Regions from separate parts of the Homo sapiens genome. Here region 1 is linked to region 2. The links come from fine-mapping of genetic effects on gene expression. A gene starts in region 2. The other region holds a variant in brackets. All regions are shown on one strand. Distances are from middle to middle.

Evidence for each region. PIP is the estimated chance that this variant, and not a neighbour inherited with it, causes the effect. A credible set is the group of variants that fine-mapping cannot tell apart.
Region 1: its variant is the best candidate, but not a certain one, in a credible set for the expression of VIPR1 in whole blood (TOPMed, PIP 0.57).

The regions. Positions count from the first base shown.
Region 1 is chr3:42,352,518-42,360,847 of GRCh38, reverse strand. It overlaps a transcript of LYZL4 not described here. Among named protein-coding and RNA genes, the nearest start is that of LYZL4, 54 kb to the left of the region's middle. The variant G/A (reference allele first, on the strand shown) is at 4,870.
Region 2 is chr3:42,498,408-42,506,671 of GRCh38, reverse strand. It overlaps VIPR1 (vasoactive intestinal peptide receptor 1), which reads right to left and starts at 4,029. Exons shown (of 13, transcript NM_004624.4): 1 at 3,859-4,029. The coding sequence starts at 3,936. RefSeq lists silencers at 3,771-4,270, 4,331-4,430 and an enhancer at 4,958-5,531.

The DNA of each region.
Region 1 (8,330 bases), 150 kb after region 2:
AGACATCTCTGATACAGTTCTCTGGTTCTAGTCCTCTGTGAAAAATATTCCAAGAGTAAAAAAAAAACTGCATATAAATATTTAAGGTTACTTTGTAATTGTATTAGTACTGGTAATAGTGGTTTTTAACTTTGGAAAATTTTTAAGTATATTGTAAGATTAAAGCAAAGAAGTAAATTCCTGAAACTATTCTATCTATGTATATTAGAGAATAAAGAAAATAAGTAAATATATTCTAATAGTATTAAGAATCAAAAGATTTTTAGAGTAAGAAAAAAGCGATTTATATACAAAATACAATAGATTTAATGAAAACCTGAAATGTTACATTTGAATTGGAGTAAATATAAACTCATAATTGTATATATTATATATAATACGTATATTTTTATTTTTTCTCTGTCAACTGAAAGGCCCTAGAAGCAATAACACCTCAGTATACCAAGTCCCCAAATCTTAGCTTCTAATAACAGTACTGACCGGGTGCCACTGGTGGCTCACGGCTATAATCCCAGCAATTTGGGAAGCCAAGGTGGGCAGATCACTTGAAGCCAGGAGTTTGAGACCAGCCTCGCCAACATGGCAAAACCCCATCTCTACTAAAAATACAAAAATTAGCTGAGCGTGGTGGTGGGCACCTGTAATCCCAGTTACTCAGGGAGCTGAGGCAGGAGAATTGCTTGAACCCAGGAGGTGGAGGTTGCAGTGAGCCGAGATCGTGCCATGCACTCCAGCCTGGGCAACAGAGCGAGACTCCATCTCAAAAAATAAAAATAAAACAGTATCCTTCCCCACTCAAATGAATGATGGCTCTTTTGGGAAATAGCTGATTCCAGGGAAATACAAGAGGAATCTCATAAGTCTGGTTGGTCCAGAAATGCTTAAAGATGAATGGGACAAAGTTTGTCTGAGACTGAGGGAATTTTCTGCACACGGGACTTCCAGTTTTAAAACTGGAACAAGTAGGTCACTCTATCAAATCCCCTGTGGATGGACATTTGGATTATTTCTAATTTTTGCTATTATAACTAATGTCACTATAAAAAACCTCCTGCACATGTTGCTTTGTATCCGTGGACGTGTATCTTAAAGGTGAATTTCTGGAAGTGGGATTGCTTAGGTTGGCTAAAGAGTAAATGAGTCTGTAGCTTTGTTAGATGTCGACAAGTTCTCCTCTGCAGGAAGTGTACTCTCTTGCCTGCCATTATTTGCCCCAGTGCAGGGACCTGATCCAGCAGGAACAGAATATCTCATGCCACACTTAGGAAGAAGGATGCAAATACCCCTGAGATTTACTTGTAGAGAGTATAAATGACTAATATCAGCCTCTTTCCTGAGTAATGATTTTGATGGTGGGAAAGGGGGCAGGGAGGAAAAGATGCATTGATATCCTTGTGGGAGGCCCTAAATCCAGACTTCTCCTGCTTACAGGTTTTCCCTGGACTAGACCTGTGCTTTCTGCCTGAATTTCTTACCCTCTGATAACTTAGGCAAATGAGATCGCAGATTCCAACCCTTTAACTCTATAACCCATTCTCTTTGGCATCCAGACCCCCTCTACTAATTAATACAAGGCATTCTCATTTCCCCAGGTCTTCCTTTTTGGGCCCTTTGCTTATTGGTGCTATTGGATTGGTACCTAGGCAGCACAAGAGGGCCTCCCTTCTCCATCCCAGCCTTCCCACCTGTACTGGGACATGGTGTTTCTTCTCTTAGGACTGTCAATAGATATTCAAGAGAGGACCCTGTGTCCATTTACAAAATAGCAAAATGCTTCCCTAGTCCTGCTGTTCCCAATTTTTTGTTTTCCTCCCAGCAAATATAACATTTACATATTGATAGTGAAGGAAATAACGTATACAGTGGTCCAAGACAAAGTGCCTTGAATCGGTTTAGGTTAGCAAACTACAGAAAAAAACAGGATACACTAGGCCCCTGCTTGGATAGTCAATGCCTGCTTGTCGCGCACCTCCCTGCACCACCCCCGACCCCGTTAGTTGCCCCCACCCAAACCAAAAAAGTTTAGTCTAAGATGAAAGTTTACTAGCCTGCAAGATAGCTCACTTTGTCTATTCTCATCAGCCTGCCCAGCTACTTAAGTCATAAGTCAAATACTTAAAGAGCCCCTGAGCTGACTAGGAATGCAACGCATTGTGGGCTGCAACAAAATGCAGCAAGACAACCCCAAAGAAAACACCTAAGCCCCAGCCCAGCAACTGATAGGTGACGTGTGGGAAGATTGTGACCCCATAGTAGTCAGCCTATGAGGAACTGGGGGAGGAACCTGTGCACTAGGGGGTAAATTGTTTGTTGTGACTGTGCTGGGTGTGCCTGCCCATCAGACACCTGATCTTGCAAGATGGTCCTTAAAAGTCTCACTTTCGCTGTTCTCCGGGTCTCTGAGTCCATTCTTTAAATTTGGACAAGTGAGTTTGTTTCTCACAATAGGCATTCCCAAATTTTATGAAACCTCAAATTATGCAAGTAAATGAAGCAATAGGCATGACAGCCTTTTTTGGCCCAATCCTCACAAAAGCATCTCATATACTTGTGTGAGATTCAAGGCCCAGCTATGGCCCTGTTAGGACAGGCTCTGTTTGTATGACACCCAGGTTCCTGGACATAACTTCCTTCCTCTCCCCATCAAGAAAGCATGATATTATCGAGAGTGAGCTAGACTTATCAGTATTTACAGGAAGCAATCTCCAAGCATAATGTTGAGTGAAAGACAAGTTGCAAAAGGAAATAGAGTGTGCTAATATCTCTTGAAGACTCACAAAACAATGCATTGTTAATGAAAGACTACTTATGAACAGAACTAACATTCAGGGGTCAATGCTGGGTAAGCTGAGTGGTATATGGTTGGTTATCACTCTGGTTGGTGCCATGCTCCATACATGCTCTTAAATATCTTCATATTTTGTCCCCCCAACCATAGTAGCAAACTATGAAAACAAGGATGAAAAAAATATACAGCATTAGAATGGTGAGTACTTCAAAAATGTCAGGAGGAGAGAAATGAGGCACAGGGAGAGAATTTAGCTTTACTTGCAACTGATTTTTGTTTCCATTCTCTTTTCTTTTTTTTAGTATTTGAAGAAATACAGGCATCATGGAGATATTGCAGGTGTCAGAACAAAATGAATTGTACAAATTTTTTGGTTTCCCAATGCATGTAAATGTTACATTTACACTATATTGTAATTTATTAAGTATACAATGACAGTATGTCTAAAAAATGTACATGGCTTAATTTAAAAATGCTTTATTGCTGAGAAAATGCTAATGATCATCTGACCCTTCAGCAAGTCATCTTTTTGCTAATGGAGGGTGTTGCCCTGATGTTGATGGCTGCTGACTGATCAGTTGGTGGTTGCCAAAAGTTGGGGTGGCTGTAGCAATTTCTTAATATAAGACAACAATGAAGTTTGCCTCATTGATTGACTCTTTCACGAAAGATTTCTCTGTAGCATACAATGTTGTTTGATAGCCCTCTAACCATAGCAGAACTTCTTTCAAAATTGGAGTCAATCCTCTCAAACCCTGCTGCTGATTTATCAACTAAGAATATGTAATATTCTAAATCCTTCGTTGTCATTTCAACAGTGTACACAGCATCTTCACCAGGAGTAGATTCCATCTCAAGAAACCACTTTCTTTGCTCATTCACAAGAAGCAACTCCTCATCCACTCAAGTTTGATCATGAGAATGCAGCAATTCAGTCTCATCTTCAGGCTCCACTTCTAAATCTAGTTCTCTTGCTATTTCCGCCACACCTGCAGTGACTTCCTCCACTGAATTCTTGAACTTCTATAAGTCATCCTTGACAGCTAAAATCAACTTCTTCCAAACTCCTGCTAATGTTGATATTTTGACCTCCTCCCTTAAATCGTGAATTTTTTTTTTTTTTTTTTGAGACGGAGTTTCAATCTTGTCACCCAGGCTGGAGTGCAATGGCATGATCTCGGCTCACCGCAACCTCTGCTTCCCGGGTTCAAGCAATTCTCCTGCTTCAGCCTCCTGAGTAGCTGGGATTACAGGCATGCACCGCCATGAACAGCTAATTTTGTATTTTTAGTAGAGATGGGGTTTCTCCATGTTAGTCAGTCTGATCTTAAATTCCCAACCTCAGGTGATCTGCCCGCCTTGGCCTCCAAAATTGCTGGGAGTACAGGCCTGAGCCACCGTGCCTGGCCAAATTGTGAAAGTTCTTAATGACATCTAGAATGGTGAATGTTTTCCAGAAGGTTTTCAATTTATTTTACCCAAATCCATCAGAGGAATTACTATTTATGGCAGCTATATCCTTATGAAATGTATTTCTGAAATAATAGAATTTGAAAGTCAAAATTACTCATTTCACTATTTCATGAGCTTCAGAATGGATGTTGTGTTAGCAGGTATGAAAAAAACATTAATCTCCTTGTAAATCTCCATCAGAGCTCTTGAGTGTCTAGGTGTATTGTCAATGAGCAGTAATATTTTGACAGGAATTCTTTTTTTCTGAGCAGTAGTTTCAATAGTTGGTTTAAAATATTCAGTAAACCATGCTGCAAACAGATGTGCTGTCAGGCTTTGTTGGTTCATTTATAGAGCACAGGCAGAGTAGATTTGGAATAATTCTGATGGCCCCTAGCATTTTCAGAATGGTCATGAGCATTGGCTTCAACTTAAAGACACCAGCTGCATTAGCTCTTAACAAGAGAGTCAACCTGTCTTTTGAAGTTTTGAAGACAGACATTGACTTCTCCTCTCCAGCTATGAATGTCCTAGATGGCATCTTCTTCCAATATAAGGCTGTTTGGTCTACACTGAAAATCTGTTCTTTAGTGTAGATGCCTTCATCAATGATCTTAGCTAGATCTTCT[G/A]GATCTCTTGCTGCAGCTTCTCCATCAGCACTTGCTGCTTCACCTTGCACTTTTATGTTATGAAGATGGCTTCTTTCCTCAAACTGTATGGACCAACCTCTGCTAACTTCAAAGTTTTCTTCTGCAGCTTCCTCACCTCTCTCAGCCTTCACAGAATCAAAGAGAGTTATGGCCTTGCTCTGGATCAGGTTTTGGCTTAAAGAAATATTGTGGCTGGTTTGATCTTCTACCCATACCACTAAAACTTTCCCCATATCAACAATAAAGCTATTTCCCTTTCTTATAATATGTGTTTACTGGAGTAACATTTATAATATTCTTCAATAATTTTTCCTTTGCTTTCACAGCTTGGTTAACCATTTGACATAAGGGGACTAGCTTTCAGCCTATTTCAGGATGAGGAGGAACATGCCTTCCTCACTAAGCTTAATCATTTCTAGCTTTTTATTTAAAGTGAGAGATGTGCAACTCTTCCTTTCATTTGAACACTTGCAAGCTATAGTAGGGTTATTAATTGGTCTCATTTCAATATTGTTGTGAATCAGGGAATAGGGAGGCCAGAGGAGAGAAAGATTGGAGAATGGCTGGTTGGTGGAGCAGTCAGAACACAGACAACATTTGTTAAGTTCACTGTCTTCTATGGGTGTGGTTCATGGTGCCCCTAAACAATTACAATAGTAACTTCAGAGATCACTGATCATAAATCATCATAACACATATAATAATAAAAAGTTTGAAATATTGTGAGAATTACCAAAATGTGACATAGAGACACAAAGTGAGCACATGCTGTTGGAAAAATGAGACCAATAGACTTTCTTGGCACAGAGTTGCTGGAAACCTTCAATTTGTGAAAAACACAGTATTTGAAAAGCAAAATAAAGCAAAGCTCAATAAAATGAGATATGCCTGTATTTCAAAATATTACTGCTTGTTAAATGTGCATGTAGATGTTTTATATGATTCTCTACACTTGTCCATATTTTAAAAATATTTCAGAATTAGAATATTTGTATGCATATATATTTTAGAGTGAGAAGAAAGTCAGAATGCAAAGGAGTGAGAATGACATTTTAGGAATGGACTTAAGACCTCTAATTTGTATAAAGGATGAAAAGGAGGAGGTGGGAGAGAAGGAGGAGGGAGAAAAGGAGGAGGAGGAGTGTGAGGAACAAGAGGAGGAAGGTAAGGAGGAAGAGGAGGAGGGTGAAGAAGAAGAAAGGAGGAGGAGGAAAAGGAGTAAATTCATTCCCAAACACCTGCACTCTAACTCCATTAGTTACAAATTCCCTTGACCATCCATAGTGGGCTGGTAACAGATGGGGCAGTTCAGCAACCACTGAAAAGAGTTAAGCTGACCTGTAAGTCCTGGATATGGAAAATGTCCAAGATGTATTCTATTAAACGAAAGAAGCAAGCACTGCATAACATTCATTGTGTGGTCGACTGTTCCCAGTGATTTCCTCGGGGAAGGGGTGGGGAGTAGGGAGGCAGTGGTGGAGGAGTTCCTACTTTTTTCTAGATAATTATTCATTTCTTAATGTTTTCTATTAAGAATAAGCTCATCTATTGCCTTTTTAATTGAATCCATTTTAAAGTGGTGAGGATAATGGGAGAAGTACAGGCAAAAGGCCTTAAAAGAAACAAGAAAGACCTCATAGAGGAGGCAAGCCACCCTGAGGCACAGGTAGAATCTGGGATGCACAAGTAGGGTGGGAGAAGGGACAGCAGACCAGAGACATGGAGCCAGAGAGTGGGGATGGCTTCTAGGAAGGGTGTGTGGACCTGGGATGTAGGCTGGGGCCAGATTACACTGGATTGCATTATCAGACTAGGAAGCTTGGTTTCCACCTATTCCTTCCCTCCCTCAAACAGACTCCTGTCTTGAGGAGCCAGGGCTGTCCAGGCAGAGCTGGGCCCACAGACTGCAATGAACTCAGCCCAAGGGCTGCTGGGAGATGGGCCAAGGTAAAGATCAACCCCAAATGCCATGTTCTGGAACATGGAGGTGGGTGGGAGGAGGAAGGTAGGCAGGGCCAGTGCATCCTTACCCAGCTATGATCAACTGCTGGGCACTTGGCTTGGAGCTGGGAATGAAAATACAATCTGCTAATTAAGCTAATTGTTTGAAAGGCATTTTTTTTTTTTGCATAGTCATCAAAAAGAGGCATAATGAGCATAAAAACAAAGGGATCTTTTATTTTTCATTCATGCCTTAATCATCATTTCAAGTACCCTAGCCTGGTCAGTATAATTATAGGCTCTTGGTACAGAACTAAAGCTAATTTCCCAAAGGACATTGAGTTCACATCTCTGTTCTGCCAGAAAGCTGGCCCTGTTCTCTCAGGAACTTCTGGAATTAGGAATGCTTCTTCTCTCTGTGCCCAGACTTGGATGCCTTTTGATCGCATGGAGATGGATATTTCAGATCACCAAGAGACAGAGACTCTAAGAAGGCTTCTTTCTCCCTACACGGAGAAATCATTTTGTGATAGAAAAACTCAGTGCTGTAGTGAGGGCCATGGGGAATAGGCAGCCAAAAATGACAACTGTCCCCCCAGTCGGTGTTGGTCTGAGGACTGCAGAGCAGGATGCAGGGTGGTCTCGCCATAAACCTGGACGCTGATGGGTGGTGATGGAGAATTAGGCAGAATGAACACTTCTGCTGTCACCAGACTCATTGATAAGACCATCCTGAGGCAGCTGAAAGTGTTCACCCATATCCCATCAGAGACCCTTGCTATTTCAGCGCATGGTGTCAGCCTGACTGCCATCAGCCATCTTTGTTGCCTGCAGGAGGGAAGGAGTGGGAAGAACCAGGGAATTACCATCTGGGCCAGTCCTTAAGCCATGACTGGCAGGTGTGAATTCCCCAGCTTTGTTACCTTTCACTGTTTCCCAGAGTTTCCTCTTAAGCTTAAGCACCAGTTCCATATTGCAGTAGCTGGTGTGACAGCACACACTTACTAGCTGCCTTCCCTTGCTCAAATATCTTTCTTCTTCACCTACCCATGTTCCTTCCACTTCCCAAATAAACTACTTGCACTCATATCCTTATCTGAGGGTCAGCTTCTGGGGGAGCTCAAACTAAGACCCATGTGTGAACCTTGCTGTGAGCAACTATGTCCATATTCCCTCACACTTTAGAACATTCATTTCCTCCTAGACCTTCTGAGTCCTTGTTCACCACCCAGCCTTCTGAACTTTGCTACAGGTTTTCCTGCTGTGTCCCGCATCCTGGGGATGTGCCCCAGGAGCCTCTATGGGCAGAGGACTAGGTGGTTCTGGGGACCCTTTGCCCTGTATTAGCCTGAATGGCTCTGCTTTAACCTGTTTACATATGAATTTAATTTGAAAAAAGAGTTCTATTACTGCCACTGAAGAGAAAAGGTGATTCCCAGATGAGAATCTGCTTTTAATGAGTTGAGCTCCTCAGGATCCTGAGTTTACAAGCCTGTGCC
Region 2 (8,264 bases):
CCTGTAATCTCAGCTCCTAGGGAGGCTGAGCCAGAAGAATCGCTTAAACCTGGAAGCTGGAGGTTGCAGTGAGCCAAGATCACACCACCACACTCCAGCCTGGGTGACAGAGCAAGACTCCATCTCAAAAAGAAAAAAAAGAAAAAAAGGAAATACTTCTAAGTTATGTGAGAGAGTACATACTGACATTTTCAATGGGTACAATAAAAATCATTTTGTGTTAAGAAGTCAGAGAGGGGAAGGCAGAATCTGGGGGTTGAACAGAAGGATTTAAGAAAGGGACTAGGCTTTACATAGTCCCCAGGCCCCATTCCCTGCTCCATGGCCAAAGGAGCCACAGTGAAGGGCCCAGCAATGGCAGAGTTGTGGCACGTGGCAGGTTAGAGCCCCTACCCTGGTCTCATGGCCCATGTTGGATTTCCACTGAGGCTGCCCACGTTGTGAAGGCCCATCTGCTCTGAGAGGCCCCATTGCCTACCTAGGCCTGGAGCCTTACCCCCAAAATGTTTTGGCCACCTAATGAGGAAACGTCCCCCATTCCCCAGGACTCCTGCTGCCCTGGGAACCTGTGGGAAGATGGGGGCCAGAAATAGCTGTATAAGTTTGCACAGGGCTCCCAAGCTGGGGACGTAGGAGAAGGGATGACAGTCACACAGTTCACATAGCCACCTTCACAACCTTTACCTCCTTCAAAGCTCACAGAAGTCCTGCTTGAAAGACAAACCCCCTTTCACAGAGACCCTGGTGCTCCAGGGGTAGATTATGTCCCACTCAGGAGGCAGAGTTGGCTCCAGCCTAACCCTCTCCTCCCACTTCTCCTGCACACTGGGCGGAGGCCTCTCACCTTCCCTTTTGTGGTGAGGAACCCGAGGCCCTTCCACAAAAGTTAAAGATGTTCCCAAGGTCAAGCCATTGCCATGGAGTGGAGTGAGGACCAGCTCTCCTGTTTCCAGCCTGGGCTCCCCAAGGATGTCCCACAAACCTCAGAGAAGGCATAGTCTTAGTGCACCAGGACAGGAGGGTAGAAACTTCCAAAAGGGCTCGCTTTTCCAGCATGGTACCCTGGGAGCCCTGGCCAGGCCTAACTGAGGTGGTAACCTCACTTGAGGAGGAGGCCTGACCCAGATGCAGCCATGTTTCCCAAAGCTCACAGGGTGGCCTGCTGGGGGCCAAGAGGGCCTGGGCAGCTGTGGTCCGCCTCTGGAGAGGCTAGAGGCAGGTGGCAGGGGCAGCAGGATGCCGGTGGCAAGGCAAGGCCTTCAGGAGCTTGTGGCCACTGATCAACCTCAGAGTTGGGGAGAAGTCGAGCCTCTCCCAGTCCCTGGGACTCCTCCTTCTGGGGGCAGGCCCATTGGTCCTGTCAACAGAGGCTGTTTTATGGTTTAGGGTGAAAGATTGGCCCATCTGGTCAAACTCTTTAGGGCACAGTCCTGCTTCTTCCAGGAGCCTCCCCTGACTGTTCCTCTCAGCAACCCCTGCCCCAGTTCTAGGAGGCTGTACCCCACATCCACCTGGACTCTTTCTCCTAAGTCACTGGGTCTGGTCTCCCACACCAGATAGAGAATTTCCCACGAGGAGGCCTGTGACCCTCCTCCCCCAGCCTCGTACTGGGCATTGCCCTGAGCAGCTCTGCTTCTGGATGAGGAGTCCCTGTGCCTGCTGTCCGGGGGGCAGGGGCAGTGGAAGGCTTGACAGGTGGCCTTGGGGCAGACTTCCTCCTCTGAGACACTGGAGGTTTTCTTTCCTTTTTTTTTTTTTTTTTTTTTTTTGCCTCCCTTTTCAGAGATTTCTCCTTCCCAGGCTGAAGTCAGGGCACCATAAACAGGAGTGATAAGGCCTTGGGCCTTCAACTTGAACTTTGCAGCTGCCATTTTATGACTCTGATAACTCCTGTCACCCCGCCCCCCCACCCCGCCGTCACACCGAGTCCGGCTAGAGCAGGTTTGCCCCATTCCATGAGGGAGCGATTGGTAGCTGGTGGGGAGGAGGGAGAATCAGGGAGGGAAATAGGGACCCCTCACTCCAGCCTGCCCTCACCCAGTCCTGGTTGAGTCCCTTCTCCTCTCTCTGTGGACCCAGCCCCTGCACTGGGCTGTAAGAAACATGGGGATGTAAGAGACCCCAGCCCCTGACCTTATAGGATGGCCAGAATAGCCCAGCCTGGGAGGTGGGTAGGGCTGAAGGGTGGGGTTAGAGGGGGAAGGGTTGAGTTGGCTGGAGCAATCAGGGAAGGCTGTCTGGAGGAGGAGATAGAGTTGGGCACTAAACGAATAAGATGTGGAAAGACAGGGGGAGGGTAGGCATTGGAGGGAGGAGACAGATTTGGGCTGTCTCAGGAAGTGTGAAGTAGAAGTGGCCTGGTGTGAAAGGAGACCTCTCTGAATCCACTCTGCCCCTGGGCTCAGAAGCTTCTCGGGATGGAGGAATGGGGTGACAACAGTGGTCCCAAGATCCCCGGTTCATCCAAGAAGAGTTTGAGTGGCTTGAACCTGGGGTTGGGAGGGCCAGATGGTGGTTGGAGAGGCCTGAAGGCTTCATGCAAGTTGTGCCAGAGCTGTGGCCTCTGGGACAGAGCTTGGTAAGATTTTGAGTGCTCAGGAGGTGGGTCTCATGGCTGTCATGGGTGGAGGTGAGGCTCCTGCCAATTGTCAGAGGTCCGCTCCTAGGACAGGCAATGAGCTTCCCATTCCCAGGGTGCTCAAGACATCCGCTAGATGGAAACACAGAGATACCTGCTCTGGTGGAGGTGATGGTAAGGGAAGTGACCATGGGAGAGAATGAACTAGATAATCAAGATTCCTCACCCTCCCCCAGCCAACTTGGAGTGGGCATTTAAGGCCCTGCCTAAGCAGCAACTCTAGATTACTCAAAGTCTGGGGTAGGGAGAAAATCAACCTTTGTCTAGGTCTAACTGGTGGGAGACAGATGTGGCTCTTGTGTCTCTGGACCTCGCTTTGCCCATCTGTAAAATGGGCTTCAGTAGACTCAATGAGTGCTGAGGTCTCCCCTGTTCTAGAGTGAGATGATCCATGCATCTCCTGCCTCAATCAGCATCTGCCTCCCAGCCCAGGTAAGCCATCCACAGGAACACATATCACACCCACACATGGGGCACACGAGTACACATGTATCAAGGGCATACACATACCCACGTTGAGAGGAAGCAGAAGTGGGAGGAAGAGGGAGGCCACTGCTTGTTGGCATTGGCTCCCTGCTCAGCTCTCTCCATGTACAGGCCTGGCCCCTCCTGTTAACCACCACCCTTAGCCCCTCACTGCCCACCAGCTTCCACCTTGGGGTCTGGTACCTTTTTGCTTTGCTCAGTGGGAGGGCACACGGAGGGATGTGCCTGTCACTCACCTGATCCCAAGAACCCCTTCTCAAGTCCTGGGGCCCCCAGCACTGGTTCTGATGCTGACAGCCCACAGGCACCTCCAGACGGTCACAGCACACAAGAACGGCCCCTCACATCCTCCCTCTCACCTACGGTGTACCAAACCTTCCATCTCAATCGGCCGCAGTACCTGACTCTGCACCCACTGGCCGCCCCACCCCGCTGCGCACCCACAACCACGACAAGGAAGGCAAGTCTGGGGCCCACTCTTCCCCGCTGCCCCTCCACTGATGCTGTGCCTGCTCCGGGCTGCGCTGGGAGGGACTGGGCACGACCAATATCCCAGCCCTCGCGTCTAGGTTCGGTCTGGAGCGGTGGGAGGAGGCGAGTCGAGATGCTTGATGTCCCCTATTCCTCTTACACAGACACGCGCACAGACGGCCCGGCTCCCGCCATCCCCCACCTCCCCCGCCCTCCGCAACCCCCAGGCTGCCGGGACTCTGGGCGGCCGGGCGAACACTCACCGCCGGCCCAAGGGCCCAGGCGAGGGCGCCTGCCAGCACGCATAGCCAGCGGGCGGGCAGCGGACTTGGCGGGCGCATGGTCTGCCCTGAGCCCGCGGCGGGCGGCCCCGCGCGGGCAAAGAGCTGGCGGGCGGCGCACCAGGCGGGCGATGGCCGGGAGCCTGGCAGAGTGGCGCTGGCGCTGTGGCCCCAGAGCTAAGAGGCGCAGCTCAGGGCTGGGGGCGGGCCCCGGGGGCTCGTCTGACGGGCGGCGGATCTAGCCAATGGATGGGTGGAGGCGGGGCCGCCGCGCAGGTATGGGGCGGGGCTGGGGAGCCCCTGCCAGTGAGGAAGCTCTGCTCTCTCTTTGCCAATCCCACACCTTGGTCTTCCGTCGTGAGACATTTATAGGCCTTCGCCCCTCCGGGCTCATCACCCGGGAATCTCGAGACCCGAACACATTCCATCCTTCCATGCTTAGCTCACGACCTTCGCAAGCTCCCACCTCTGTATCCACCCTCAGCCCCATCCCAGGGCGCTCCTCATGTCTACCCTCGGAGCCACCTCCTCCAGGAGGCCTCCCCGCCAGCCTCCCCATTTCCCACCTGTGCGTCTCCGAGGGTTCGTGCGCGCAAATCCGATTACGAGACAGGAAGTGCCACTTATCTTCCCAGGCTGCGAGCTGGGGCCCAGCAAGTGTCCAGGCGCTGACAGAGATCGGGTTGTTTGATCAATTTTCAACAACCCCAATTCATCCTTCGCGCCGAAGAAGCCAGGCGAGAGGAAGCGAGGGCTCGAAAGAGGCCCGACTCTGGGTTCCTTGGTGTTCCCTGCTCCCGGGTGACCTGGTGGGGCGCGCTCAGCACCTGTTGGGTGCCCTGGCCCTTCAAGCCTCGGGAGACCTGCTCCAGGGAGGATGAGGTGTCCGCACCCTCGCGGGTCTCGTCCAGGGCACCTCCCCAGGGAGGCTGGGCTGAAGTGCCAGCGCCCTCGCGTGGGGAGCGAGGTCTGCTCCCAGCCCGCAGGCCGACTCCGCAGCTGACCTAAAACGATCCACAGACGTCGTCCTCCTCCTGCATTCCCTATTTTACAGCTGGGGATACTGGGGTCCAGAGAGGGGCCAGGACCCTGGCCGCCTGCCTTTGGTGCTGAGCTTCCAAGGGGCGGCTGCTCGGCCGCTGGGTGACACCGGGTCAGCCCCTTTTCTCGTTTATTCGTCCCTGGCATGGGGAGCGGGGTCACCAGCTCTGCGCCCTGGGAGCGCGTCTTCTTGTGGACCAAGCGCAGGTGGCTGCTAGCCCTCTTTCTACGGGCTCGAGCCTGCACAATCGAGGCTGGAGATGTGGTCGCGGCGGCAGGATAGAGTGGCTGGCGGAGCCGTGTGACAGAAGGAGAGGCGGAGTTCAGTGGAGAGGCGGAGAGGGCAGCGGGTCCCAGAGCCCTGAGCAGAATGTGCGGCTACCTGAAGGAGGTCCCGCGCTAGGCTTTGGCTGAACAGCAGGCGCGCAGGAGCTCCCTGAGGACCCACCAGGGCTTCCCTCCCTACAGAGAGGGAACGTTGGGATGCTGCCATGGGGTGGGCTTGAGGGGAGTGGGGGAAAGCCGGGAAGGGATGAGTGCCCTGGCCCTTTCTTCAGGGCGTACTTACACTTTCTTTCCACTCTCTCTTCTTTCTCTTCTTTCTTCCTCCCTTCCAGCATTCCATCCCCTGCACTTGCTCTTTTTCCCTTTCCTCCCTCTCCTCCTTCCCTTCATTAAAGGGAACCTCGCCACCATGGAGCCCCTCCCTCCTTTCTTCCATGCACATTTATTAATCTCTTTCTGTGTGCCAGGCCCTGTGCTGTGCACTGGGGGCACAGAGGTGGATGGGCAGCATCCCCTTGCCATGAGGGGAACTTGGGGAGCTACTGTACTCCCTGCAATTTCTACCTCCTTCCCGATATAATCAGTGAGGCTGGACACAGGCCTTTCCTTAGATTTGGGAGCTGTGGAGATGCCTCTGTCCTAGCCTTTCTTGGGTTTGTACTCGATCTCCCAATGGCGGGAGTGTTTGAATCATCCTCAGCCATCTCCTCAGCTATCCACACCCCTGACGGCTGCTGTTAGCTCAGAAATCAGGGGTCTTTGTCTCTCCTTATGACCCTGTGTACCCCGTCTCGGGTCTCAGTTCCCTGGCAGGACAGTGGAATTGTGTCTTTTTCCTGGGAAGTTACTTGTGCTGGCATGGTGTCCTAGGAGCCCTAGATGTGAAGAGCAAACCTGTGGGTTTGGGGTGTCATGAATCCTCAGCCCTCACTCCTCAACACATACATACACACACAGCACCTAGCCAGCTGCAGGATGCTGAAATCCTATCATTAATGTGTCATGCCCCCAGGGTTGTTGAAGTTCTCCTGCTCTCCTGGAGGACAAGGTTCTTGGACACTTGAGGGTATATGATGGGTGTGAGGATTGGAGAGGCAGACCTCACTTTGCCATGTGACCCACCAGTGAATGGCTGGTGGGCAGGGTGGGGAGGGAGGGAGAGGGACTGGCTACCAGTGGGGATGGGTTGCCTTCCCCTGGCTCTGGAGGGGGGCCCACACTACCCTTCCTCTCCTCTGTTGGAGGGCTGGATGGCCAGGTTGGAGGCAGTGAGTGGCTGGGAAGGCATCTGATGCCTTTGCAGGCCTTGCTCCCCGGAAGGGAGTAGGTGAATCAGAAATAATTGTTTCCTTGCAGATTCTTCGGAATAAACATCACTTCTTTGTTCTTTCAGAATTGTTCTCCTGGGGGATCCACCCTTCCTTACCTATCAAAGGGCACAAAACATATTCAGAAATGAAAAGAGCAGAAAGAAAATAGCAAAACCAAACAAAAACCTAAAAAATTCAACCAACATTAAATGTGACTGTGTTTCAACTAATTGCTCCCGAATGTCCTGTCCTGTGTTCTGAAGCACTGGGGGGAAGGGGGTCAACCGTGGGCCCACTCTTGGGGAGTCCTGTAGAATCTGCTGAGGAAGCCATCCTTTTGTGCACCCAGTTGATCTGGGAAGGCTTCTTGGAGGAAGAGGGATGTCAGAAGCAGAGGGGGGGCCGACGGACTACCTGAGGGAGTGGGAAGCCTGTGGTCCCAATCTCCCCACCCTGTCCAAAGCCTAAGCCCCTCTGGAGTCTGCCTTGCCTTCCCAGTCCAGGCTTGAGGAGGAGAGCCATAGTCGCCTCCTACTCTCTGTTCCCCCATGTCCTTCTTGCATGGATTCCTCCCTGGGGGGGTCTGTTCTGAAGTCTCCCCTCTGGGATCCCTAAAACCTGTCCCTAGTCTCTAGCACCATCTCATATCCCTTCTGGATGTCAGAATCACATGGGTGCCAAGGACACGGGAGGTGGCGGGAAAGAGAGAGAAGTGGAGTCACTTGCCATCCCCCGTGACAACAGGCATGGCACAAAGAGAATCTGCAGTTACTCATTCTGAGCCTGCCTGGCTTCCTGCCTGTCTCATCCATGCGCTGTGTGCCGCCCTCGCCTCCTCTCAGAATCGTGCACTCACTGCCTTCAAGGCTTCCAGCTCAGGGGCTCCATGGTGGTGAGGTTCTGTGGTGGAGTGGGAAGGGGGCTGGGGGGGCCACAGAGTGGCCTTGACCTGTACGCTGGAGGCCAGGCTAGGAGATGGTGAGGAAACCACCTGGCTGGGGGAGTCACTGCTCTAGGATTCCCCTGCCAGAGCCACCCACGTTGCTGTCTGGATGCAGGCAACATTTGCTTTCTCCGGGCTTCTGAGTTGAAGGGACCTACACTTTTGGTCTTTATCCATAGAGCGGGGCTGGTAGCTCTGGCAACATGGAGTGATCACCACCTCCCCAGGGTGCACCTTCTTTTGGGGCCAGTTCTTCCTGTGAGAAGATGCACCTTAACTCCAGGCTGTAATTTGGTGGAGGGCAGGAGAGGCCTGGGCAGGCATTTAAAGAAGAAATATTCCCTTCCTCCCTTCCATAACAGCATGCAGTGAATATCATTCATTCATCCTTCACGTCTCAACACCCGCACTCATCTGGGGATTGGGGACGTGACTGTGTCTTAGACATGGGCTGTCCTCTGCAGGGAAGCCTAGCACTGCTTGGGTGTGGGATTGTGGGGGATCTTCTGTTGGTGCTACACCTGCATCTAGGAAGAAAACCAAGTTCACGGGAGAGCAGGTGATGGAGAAAGAATCATCCTGACATAACAGATTTGGAAATGAAGCTCAAGGACAAGTTCTGAAATGGCTATTCCTGGTCCTGGAGGCTGGGGCTTAGAGCTCTGTTGCGGGGAAGGGTGGTGCTAACTATAGGTGTGTCAGTTCAGGTCCTCTAGTGAGCAAATGCTAAGGTGGAGTTAGGAGTGTGAATGTTTATTGGATGGCAGGGGGACCTGTGAGAGACAAAAGAGGAGAAAGTAGGATTGGGC